3 linked regions of the Homo sapiens genome follow. The protein of the gene in region 3 interacts with the protein of the main gene of each other region in a biochemical or structural test. Each region holds a gene or a part of one and is shown on either strand. Other genes may lie near its edges. The genes, in order: ETV1, CEP131 and MAPKAPK2.

Region 1 (3,748 bases), on a different chromosome or scaffold from region 3:
CCATTAAAGCGAATTGAGGGGAAAGTAATGACATCTCTGCTTTTAAGTTGACCTGACTGTTGTTTGAAGGTCACATAAAACCAAAAGGAAAAAACCCTTATTCGTATGATGTAATAAGCTTTGCTGTAGAAAGGTTGTTCTTGCAGATAAAACTCCTACTCGAAGTGTGGAGGCAGCACTAAACTTGACTCAATACAAAACCACTGGAAAACATTTTACCCTGAAGACAGAGAATATTGTTGATGAAAGTGAACCTGAAAGAACATCTAGACCGGAAACAAAATAACAGTCAAGAGAGCAGCTACACATTTACATCAGATATATACTGAAAATTATTATTTCCCTTTAAGTTGTGTTAGTAGGTGAGCTTTAAGAAGCAAATTTGGAAGAATACAATCCTGTCTTAATTTTTTACATCTTTCTATTTTTGTTCTGGATACACAAGAGGTTCCATTTTAACTATGACTTTCAGGTTGTTAAGAATAAGACATCACCATGATGTTGATAGAATTGATATTTAAACTCATTATTTCATGGGATCAAATAATTGCAATTGCCTTTCTGTCAGTAGCAGTCTAATTTAAAAGACAAAGAATCAATAAAGAATTGCACATAGTAAAATTATAACATAAAGTGACTATGGCAACATTTTAAAATTGGCATATTCCCTGACTTTTTTTTTTTTTAACTACTGTGGTTACTGAAAACATTAACTTTGCAGTTTTCTTCAGAATAAGATAATTGTTTTAAACTGTGTTTAGATGTTAAAAAAAAAACCTTTAAATTGCAGTGTTATTTCTTGGGAAATGATATTAATGTAAAGTTATATTCTCCACCAACATATTTAAATCTCTGTATGGGAATTAACTTTCTTGGTAGAATGCAAGTATATTTTTACAGAGGACTTTACTGAACTGAAAATACTGGTCCCATCCCAACCCTCAAACAGTCCTGCCTTATCTATTCCAACTTCCCCTTAGAAATAAAAGAAATTTTATAATCCATAATAATTACCCATGACTAATCCATATGTTGCATTTGGGGTAAAATTTATGAATAGTCTTACAGAAAAAAAAAAACTAAACATGCTAAGATATCATTTCACAAATATTTGAGGACTTTTATAATTTTTCAAAAACACAATTATCATATGACATATGACAACTAACTTGACTCTTATGTCTAATAAGGTTTTTAGACCTGTTTAACTTCCCAGTGGAATTCTAACTCATGCGAGAAACTTGATTAACTGCCAATGATCTTTTTTAAAAGGGTCAAGATGTCTTAAAATTCCATGGTCACTTTCTTGGCTATGGAGCATTATGAAAAGAAATATGTAAACGGTTCATGGTCTGCCAATTTGGCAATGTTTTAATTTCTGGATGTCCAGAAAGACATAAATGGACACATCTCACTACAAATAAACTAGGGTAATTTGGGGATCTCTTCTTAGCTAATACCGTTCAAGAGGTGGGATAAGTCAAGTTAAAATATCAGTGCAAAATAATATATTTAATTTCTCAAAACAAAAAAAAAGTGGAGTCTAGAAACAAGAAGTTAAAAAGATCTCTTTTCTCACTATTAGGTTTTAAACATCACGTTAACAACTTTTTACTTACATCGTGATTAGATAAATTAACGTAAACTGTTTTGAAAACGCTTAAATTATTCTAAAATGAAATCTTATCCATAGTTTGTAAATAGTAGTCCACCTGGGAATTCATATAAAACACTCATGATTAATTCCTGAACTTAATTGAAATTATAATTCTTTTCTAAGTAAAGGTCCATGTTCTTCCAAATACACTGATCATTTTCTAGGATTATTTTTTGTAGTGCTAAATCTTCAGGTTTGATTTACAGGTATGTTAATAATCCCGGAGAAAGACTATTCTCTGCAGAGTTTTAAAAGATAAATTTGGATAAATTATTGCAATCACTTATCTGAGCTACAAGACACAAAACAAGTAAGTCAAAAGTTAAAAAAAAAGTACTGAAACTGATTATAAAATGGTAAGAGTCTGTCACAGATTCCACATTTTAAAATTCCAGGAACAGAGTTGCTATGCACATTCAAAATCTGCCAGCAAGTGCACTGACTTGGAATCAATGAGATTTAAACATCTAAGAACCAACAAACCTTCCAGAACAATTAAAATAGATATTTTAAGTTATTTTGGAGAAGCAAATAAATTCTCTCATAAAGGTAATGTTCTCACAACCTTTGACTTTGCAAAACTAATAGGCATAAGTTAATACAAGAATCTCCATGCAAATTTTCCTTGAAAAACTTGTATCTGAATATGACTTATGTTGCAATAAAAAGTAATGTATTGCAGTAAGTTTCATTTACACAGACTAGCAAAATGATCCTTAAATATAGCCAAAACTTTCAGTAAGTCTTACCTTCATTAACATATAAATACAATCATCCTTTCAAAGGACTATTAGGAAAGCTATTTAACTTTAAAGATTGATAAAGATTGAAAAAGCTCTTTGGAGAACTAGACTATCAGCAAAACAAAGAAACTTATTTTACATGCTAACAGCAACTTGATCAACTGCATTCAAGACCACCGATAAAACACGTCAGTCTGCCTCAAAGTAGCTACAGTAACACCTGGGTTCCATTTAAAGAGACCCACTCTCTCCTTTTTAACCATCTTAAAATCTGTTCCAAAATTTGCATGTTTCCCATATAATGTGAACACACAAATAATACTGTTATACACTCAATGCTTAAATATCTATAATTTTTCTCTTTGTATTTCCCACAAACCACACCATAAAATTAATGTTTCACATTTGTATGCCAAATCCAAAAGAAAAATTTCAAATTATGAATGCCAACAGAAGTCCCTCAACATTAGGCATTTTTGAAGTTGTATAAAGCTTTATGAAGCAATCTCATTTTCCTATAAAGTTGCATACGATAAAAGATATAACAGATTGCACCACAAAATTTTAACAAAAAATAATTCAAAATGAAAGTAATGCCTTTAAATGTATCCTTGCTCTATTAAATAAATCCTAATAAAACTGACAAAATAGCAAAGGTCAATTTCAGCAAACATAACATGAATAGTAACACATGGAAAACATTTTTAAAATCCTCATATCTCCCATTTATTTTAAACCCATAGATTTCCTAAGCATTAGATACACACCTAACGTTCTGTGTTGTGAACAAGGTGGAAAGAAGACACTTGCACTTAAATCTTGAAGCATCCCGTCCTGATGAACCCAGAGAAACTAATTTCTGCCATCAGAAAAGTCCTCCACCAGAACACCAAATAATGATATGCGCTGCTCTAAAGGAAACAGCAAGCCAGCCGGGTTCTGGCTCTAGGAGGTCTCTGGAGGTACAATAATATAAACCTGATCAATTGCAATTAAAATCTGAACAGAGGCTTAGAACTTGAAGTCTTGGTGCATTAGTTCTTGCCAAAAGCAGATGTGATTGTGAGCTGGAAGCAATTTCTCCTGGTAATTTGTGATGACACTGGGTAGTACAGCCCCAGAGTCCCCAAAGACAAACTCATCAGAGGCTCTAATGTATGCATGACACATGAGGTGGCTCTTTTAGAGCTCAATTAATTGGGCTGAATATTAAGACAGCAAGTTCAGGACTTCTTTTCTTTCTCCTTCTAGAGTTGCTTTCCCCCCTTTTAAAGCAAATTTTGCCTTACCTTCTGCAAGCCATGTTTCCTGTAATTGACTTAGATCTTGAAAGAGTTCTAAAAAACAA
Region 2 (3,748 bases), on a different chromosome or scaffold from region 3:
GTAAACAAATAAAACCAATCCCTGACAATACCAAGAGCTGAGGAGGATGGGGAGCAACTGCAACACCTGTGGCACTGGTGGGAGCGTAGAGCTGTACAACTTCTTTGGAAAATAGCTTAGTAGGCCGATGTGGTGGCCCACGCCTGTAATCCCAGCACTTTGGGAGACCGAGGTGGGTGGATCACCTGAAGTCAGCAGTTCAAGACCAGCCTGGCCAATATGACAAAACCCTGTCTCTACTAAAAATACAAAAATTAGCCTGGCATGGTGACATGTGCCTGTAATACCAGCTACTCGGGAGGCTGAGGCAGGAGAATTGCTTGAGCCCAGGAAGTGGAGTTTGCAGTGAGCCAAGATCATGCCATTGCACTCCAGCCTGGGCGACAGAGGGAGACTCCATCTCGGAAAAAAAAGGAAAAAAAAGAAAAAGAAAATAGCTTGGCGGTTTCCTTTTTTTTTTCTTTTTCTTTTTTTTGAGATGGAGTCTTGCTCTGTCGCTCAGGCTGGAGTGCAGTGGTGATCTCCGCTCACCGCAATCTCTGCCTCCTGGGGTCAAGCGATTCTCCTGACTCAGCCTCCTGAGTAGCTGGGATTATAGGCAGACGCCACCAGGCACGGGTAATTTTTTTGTATTTTTACTAGAGACGGGGTTTTGCCATGTTGGCCAGGGTGATCTCGAACTCCTGACCTCAGGTGATCCGCCCACCTCAGTGTCCCAAAGTTCTGGAATTACAGGTGGGACCCACTGCGCCCGGCCGGCAGTTTCTTATAAACAATCATTTGATCCAGCAACCCCACTCCTGGGTATTTACACAAGAGAAATGAAAAGTTGTGTCCACACAGAAGCCGATGAGTGAATGTTTATGGCAGCGTCATTCATAATTGCCAAGCACCAGGAACAATCTCTGCGTCCTTCATTTGATGAATAAAACCATCAATAAATAAAACCATCTGAACCGGTGGTTCACACCGGTTACAGGATACCACTCAGCAATAAAGAGGAACCAGCATGAATCTCAAAATGCGAAGTGGTAGAAGCCAGACCCACAGGCGCGCTGCGCGACATCCCTTTTGTGTGACATTCTGGAAAAGGCTGCCTCTAGGGATGGAGAACAGAGAGAACTGAGCAGCCGCCACCAGCAGTCAGCAGGTACGGGATCCGGAGGGAGAATGTTCTGTAACTAAAGTTACACAACTCCACTGCACACCAAAAAATGTGGATTTTACTGAAACCAAACTTTTTATTTTACAGAGCACTGGACTTTTTAAAAAGCGGGGGCAGGGGAGACCAGTGTGCTGTGACTTTTAGGGGAAGGATGGCTTCCCTGGAGAGGACCTGGGCGGAATCCCCAGGGCTCCCGGAGAGAGGGGGAGTCACAGAGCGGCTACGCACGGGGCGCAGCGTTAAAACTTTGGAGAAGGAAAAAAAACAACAAAGCAGCGCGAAGGGAAGGAGGTCAGGGAGGTTAGCAAGGCGCCCACACGCCCTCGCAGTCGTACTGAGTAACGAGGGGAGTCGCGCACGTGGGTGGGGACAGAGCGGCCTAGGACACTGGGGGAGCCCCGGGCCGCGGGAGTGCGGCGGCCTGGGGGTGTCGGGGAGCCGAGCCGAGGCCGCGTGCTCCTCGCGCCCTCCCTGGTGTCTCCTCCCCAGGCCCTGCGTGCCCCGCCCACACCTGCCTTGCCCCGCCCACATCTGCCTCGCCCTACTCGCCCATCACACCCCCACCTCACGCCCCGCCCACAACCGCTGGGGCCCCGCCCCTGCCCGGCCAGCTCCTCCCGCCGCCCTCGGTCCCCCGCCCCCTATATGACCCGCCCCTTTCCAGCCGCGTCCAATCGGCCGCTCTCTGTAGTCGCGTCCCTCAGCCATCCGCCGCTCCTCCCACGCTTGAACTTCCCGAAGGACAGCCGAGCGGCCCAATGAGCTCCCGGGACGGCCTGAGCGGGAGCGTGAAGGGCCAATCCGGAGTCGGCGCGCGCAGGAAAGGCGGGCCGGCGTGACGGGCTGGGGAGGTGGTGCCAGGCTGGTTGCTAGCTGCCGCCGCTGCTCACCCCGGCCGTCCGGCCGCTTCATTGTCACCGGGCCTCGGGGCAGTGTTGGGGGTGGCGGGGCGCCAGGTCGCCGACCCGAGGTTTGGGCGCGACTGGTTCCGCATCCCCTCCCCGCCGGCCGAATCTGCAGGCCCCGCGCGCCAGGCAGGCTTCGCGGCTGCGCCCCCGGCCCGCGCAGGTGAGGGGGGCCCGGGCAAGGGAGGGGGTTGCAGGGCGCACGGAGGTTGGAGGGGTCCGGAGCCCGCGCAGGTGGGAGGCCCTGGTCCAGTGATGAAGTGATGGGGATCCGGGGCACGCACAGGTGAGTGGGGGGATCTGGTGCCCGCGCAATTGAAGGCGGGATCCGGGGGAAGTGAGGGGGATCCAGGGTGCGCACAGGTGAGGGAGGTCCGGGGCCCGCGCAGGTGAAGACAGGCTCGTGCCTGAGGGTGTGGGTCCCCACCTCCATCCCCTCCACCCTCTCCACCTCCCTCCACTCCCCTCCGGTCCCCAGGACAACATGGAGTCCAGTCCCGGCATCTCTGGCCCGGCTGCCTTAAGCCCTGGGGAAAATGGGGAGATGGGAGCTGCCCTGAGGACAAGTGGAGGGCTCTGCTCTGCGCGTGGGCTCTGGCCTCTCTGTCCAGGGTCAGGGTCAGGGTCAGGGTCAGCCCACCCTGGGAACCAGGTCCTGGCGCTGGTCATCAGTCCCCGCCCCTTCAGGTCCTGGGAGGGACACAGTTTTATCCAAGATGTAGTGGCCTCCCAGGCCTCCCTTCTTCTGGCTTGGAGGTTTCCATGGAGAGGCCCCGTTCGCCATCCCAGAGCCGCTTGCAAGTGTGGCTGGGAGAGCAGAGTCCTGGGCTCCAAGGGCTTGCATGGGTCCAGCCAGGGGTGGACAGTGCCCTGCAGGAGGAGGGTGTTAAGTTTCTTCCGCACAGCCGGAAGTGCATAACTGAGGACTGGGACCTGGTCAGTGGCAGGGTCAGCCTCTAGGGAGTAGGGGTATCCATCGCTCCGTGGAAGGGACCTTGGGGGACCTGCTGTGGGGTGCCGGGCTGAAGGAAGCCCAGGGTGACCTTGGGCGATAGGCTGGGTGCCTGCTGGCCTACTGGAGGCCACCGTGGCAGGGAGGTAATTCTCGAGGTTGGTCCCTGGCGCCAGCTTCTCCCGTTCATCTACGGGTTCAGCTGAGTGCCTTTCCCTGCAGGTGCTGGGGTTGCTCAGGAGCCACACAATTCATAAACCAACTGTGTGCGGCCACAGGAAGGGAGTCCGAGCCGGATGGGGAGTGAAGAGTGATGGGTGCTCAAGGAAGGCCTCTGAGTGCAGGGAGGGAGTGTCCTGAGACCTAGAGGCAGGGGACTGGCCGGGGCCAAGCTGGCTGAGTTTGAGGAGAACCAGGGAGGCTGTGTTGGCTAAAGCCACAACAAAGGGGCACAGCAGGGGAGCTGGCGAGGTCACAGAGAGTACAGGGCCAGATCTTGCAGGAGTTGGATGTGTAGACTTTATTCTCTGTGCCTAGGAAGCTGTTGCAGGGTTTTTGGCAGGGGCACATGCACGAGCTGAGACCCGTTCAGAAAGATCAGAAAGACTCGTTCAGAAAGAGGTGCCATGTGGGGACGGGCTGGGGGCCGGCAGGGTTTGCTCTGAGAAGTTCCAAAGTAAGGAAGCCAGCATCCCCAAGCTAATCCCCTCGATCGATCGTCAGAAC
Region 3 (3,748 bases):
CAATGCTGGGGGCTAGGGCAGAGCTGGAGGGCAGGAGCCCAGCCTCTGCTGGGGTTCAGAAGTCTGCTATGTTGCAGCCCTGAGAGTTGATGGGAGCTGGCAGCTGCTTAGATGCTCTCCTCTCTGCCTATAGTCGGTGACCTCTTAGCCCTGTTAAGTGAAATCAGCATTTGAAAAAGAGTCCCAGCTCACCCTGCTGCTTCTCTCCCTCCACCTCAGAGAGCTCCCATTTAAATGCTTTTGGTGGGTGCTTTGACCTCACCTCACCATCTCTCCTGGCTGCTTTTGCTAAGTTCTGAGTCATGCTTCCAGTCAGAGTTGCAAGGGACTTGAAAGGTCATTTTGTCCAGCCCCCTTATTTTGCAGAAGAGAAAACCAAGGCCCAGAGTGAGGGAGTGACTTGTTCAAGGTACCATAGCCATTCACTTGGCAGAGGCAGGATTGGAACCCAGGTTGCCTGACTCCCAGTCTCAGGCTTCTTCCCACTTACTTCCTAACTGAGCCACGGGCTCAGGCACATGGCCACCTGCTGCTCCAGGGTGCTTCCAGCCTGAGGAGCTGTTCTGTCACCTCAGGCCCTGACTGACAAGAGGGGAGGTCAGCGAAGGGGGCTGGATGGGTATTTGCTGCTCCTGAGAACAGTCCCCAAAGTTGGAGGGGAACTTCAACAGTAGCTTCATGCATTTTTTTAACCACTCCCTCCCCCTTTTAAGAGAGTATTTGATAGGCACCTTACTTACTATTTTTTGTACAAGAACATGGGAATTCTATTATTTTTATTTTTATTTTTTTTGAGACAGAGTGTTGCTCTGTCGCCCAGGTTAGAGTGCAGTAGCACGATCTTGGCTCACTGCAAGCTCTGCTTCCCAGGTCCACGCCATTCTGCCTCAGCCTCCTGAGTAGCTGGGACTACAGGCGCCCGTCACCATGCCCGGCTAATTTTTTGTATTTTTAGTAGAGATGGGGTTTCACTGTGTTATTCAGGATGGTCTTGATCTCCTGACCTCGTGATCTGCCTGCCTCAGCCTGCCTAAGTGCTGGGATTACAGGTGTGAGCTACCGCGCCCGGCCTGTATTACTTCTTTGATAAGGACACCTAGTCTCAACCCACTTGTGTATTAATTAGTTGTATTCCCCGGGAGGGTTCCTCAGCTGCTTGCCGCTTCACTGTGTCATGGTGACCCTTAGGTGTTAGCTCAACAAATTTAATTAAAGACTGTATCGTTGTTCTCTGCTGTGCAACTCTGATTAGGTGAAGCATGTTACTGCTTTATAAAATATAGAATGTTGTCGTAACTTATCTCTGTGTATCTTTCCATTGCGTGGATTAGAGAAAACAAGGTCCTGTAGTTTCTTTTCCTTTCCTTTCTCCAGCATTCCTCTCTCCCTAGGTCATGGAAGTGCCACTGCGATGTGGCTTCCTTTGTTCTGGTGAAGGGGAGATGATTGGAGCCTCTCATGATTATTCTGGATGCTGTTGGAGGGAAATGCCAGAGCTCCCACATCCCCACAGTACAGGCACCATCTCCTTTCCAACACACCTCATACTGTGTACCTGTGGAGGGCAAGACAGTTAGTGTGGCTAGGTGAGAGGCAGTGTCCCAAACTGGAGTTTGCTGGAGTTGTCACAAGGTTAGGAAAATTTCATTGACCAAGCCAGCCTCTTTTATATGCAATATGGTTACAGGTAGGTAACAGTTTGCTGAATATCTATCATAAGCTTAGTTGCATGGAGGATACACATGTAAAAAATGGCCTGTAAAATTTTGAGTCAAGAAACTTATTTAGAGAAGGTGAAATTAACACATGTAGGCTAGGGCTGCACTGTCCAATCTGGTAGCCACTACCCTCACATAGCTAATTAAATTAAAATTAATTAACATGAATGGATTAAACTAAATTAAATTTGAAAAATCAGTTGCTAGCCACACTTCAAGTGTTCAGTAAACATGTGGCTAATGGCTATCGAATTGAACAATGCAGAAGAACATTTTCATCCTTGCAGAACGTTCTCCTAGACTTTGTTGGTCTGGGAGCTAAATCGTGTGGCTGGGAATAGAGGAGCTTTGAAAGAGGGGAATCTGTGGTGACTCCAGGAGCTAAGGGAGGCTCCAGCTGGGGTCAGTGGGACATGGCTGTGCCTCTGAGGAGTGAGCAAGTCTGTGAGAGGTGTGGTGACATTGGCCTGGCTAGAACTGAGGGGAGGAACAGGAGGTCAGAGTGGTCAGGGGTTGGTGGCTCCAAATTGAAGCTAACTCATCTTGTGTCAAAGCAGGCTTTAAAGTGTTTGAGGGGCATGAAGGTGTCAAAAAAGGTTAGGAATCATTGAAGATGGGCTTACAGAATTATGAGGGAAGGGTCAGGTTTGTGGTTTCAGAGATCCTGTCCCTCCTGGCCGTAGCCCTGACCCCAGCCCTGACCCCTGGCTCCTGCAGCAGGGCCCTTGGCATCCACTGAGGCAAGATTGAAGCTGGGTCAGCTCACTGTCCTTTTTTACTTGTGAATTCTGGGCTTTGACTGAGCTTGGAGACAATCTCCAGCTAAGATACGGGATCAGTGGCTGACAGGAGGGGAGAGACAAGCAGTCCCTGGGCCTTAGGGCCAAATATTGGTGGGTGTCTAGGAAACAAAAGAACCCCTTTGTGGGAGGAGGAAGGTATTGGGACCTGTGATGTTTCTGCTACTTGGGACCTGAGAGGTTGGGCCATCCATAATTGATGATTTTTCTTATGAAGCAGGTACAGGGGATTGGGAGGAGGGCCTGGAAGAGCCCAGCCTCAGAACTGCTGGAGGCAAACTTAATCCTTGGGCTAGGGGAGGGGCCAAAGCTCCTGTTAGCCAGAGCCCAGGAGTGTGCTGAGTGGGTGCCAGGAGGAATGTCAGCCAAGATGGGGAAGAGCAGGGCACAGTCGTCTGCATCTGAGCCATTGCCCAGTTCCCAAGCAGCCTTGCCATGCTCTGAGCTGGGGTTCTTCCTGGTGGCGTGATGTCTGTGGTGCAGGATTCACTCTATTCTCCTACCTTTCCTCTACTTCAGGCCCTGCCAAGTGTCATGTGAGGTCTCTTTTCCCCCTCTTCCCTGCACTGTATCTTTCCAGATGGTTCTGTGTCCTGGAGGGAGGTGGATGGGCAGAGAAGAGTTGTTCTTTGCAGGGACTGCAGCTTTTCTTGGTAATGGTTTGAGGCCCAGTGGCAAAGCAACCCACACTTCATAGTAACTTAGAACCCACACTCCCTGGTCATCTTTCTTGACTCCTTGCACATCACTGAGGAAGAAGCTGGCCTAGTGCAGAAATGTTCAGTGGCATGTCCAAGGTCTTACATGGTGTCAGCATCCGAGCCACATCTTGAGACCTGGTTCCCTGGGACCTGCTCTTGGTCTGGGCCCCTTTGGTTTTTGGTTGCTAGAAGACTGTAGACCTGGTGGAGCAAAACTGAGCTCCACTAACGCATCAGCTAGGATCTTTCCACATGGGTTACCTTGTAAATGGGGGCATTGGTGAAGAGAAGGGGCCATGTCACTGGACAGTGTAATAACGTATGGCAGTTATAGAACCCAAATCAGATTGCTGTGTACCTTTTCTAGTTTTTAGGAAAATACTGGTATTTTGTATTTTAAGATATATATATATATATATATATACACACATACACAGATATAGATATGTAGAGATGAGCTTGTTACCATGGGTTATGTGCTAGATAAGAAAGCAAAAATAAGTGCATACATAAATAGAAAGCTTCCAGT

What was found.
Region 1: of the proteins of MAPKAPK2 (region 3) and ETV1, one has a biochemical effect on the other in vitro, tested with the Homo sapiens proteins (one study listed by BioGRID).
Region 2: of the proteins of MAPKAPK2 (region 3) and CEP131, one has a biochemical effect on the other in vitro, tested with the Homo sapiens proteins (one study listed by BioGRID).

Annotation. Positions count from the first base shown.
Region 1 is NC_000007.14:13,982,949-13,986,696, forward strand, and holds part of ETV1 (ETS translocation variant 1), read right to left. Parts: intron 3,738-3,748; coding exon 3,690-3,737; intron 3,465-3,689; exon of another isoform or gene 3,229-3,464; coding exon of another isoform or gene 3,168-3,228; intron 1-3,167. UniProt on the Homo sapiens protein: Transcriptional activator that binds to DNA sequences containing the consensus pentanucleotide 5'-CGGA[AT]-3'. Required for olfactory dopaminergic neuron differentiation; may directly activate expression of tyrosine hydroxylase (TH).
Region 2 is NC_000017.11:81,221,254-81,225,001, reverse strand, and holds the start of CEP131 (centrosomal protein of 131 kDa), read left to right. Parts: upstream 1-2,036; 5' UTR 2,037-2,233; exon of another isoform or gene 2,234-2,356; intron 2,357-3,748. UniProt on the Homo sapiens protein: Component of centriolar satellites contributing to the building of a complex and dynamic network required to regulate cilia/flagellum formation.
Region 3 is NC_000001.11:206,687,863-206,691,610, forward strand, and holds part of MAPKAPK2 (MAP kinase-activated protein kinase 2), read left to right. Parts: intron 1-3,748. UniProt on the Homo sapiens protein: Stress-activated serine/threonine-protein kinase involved in cytokine production, endocytosis, reorganization of the cytoskeleton, cell migration, cell cycle control, chromatin remodeling, DNA damage response and transcriptional regulation.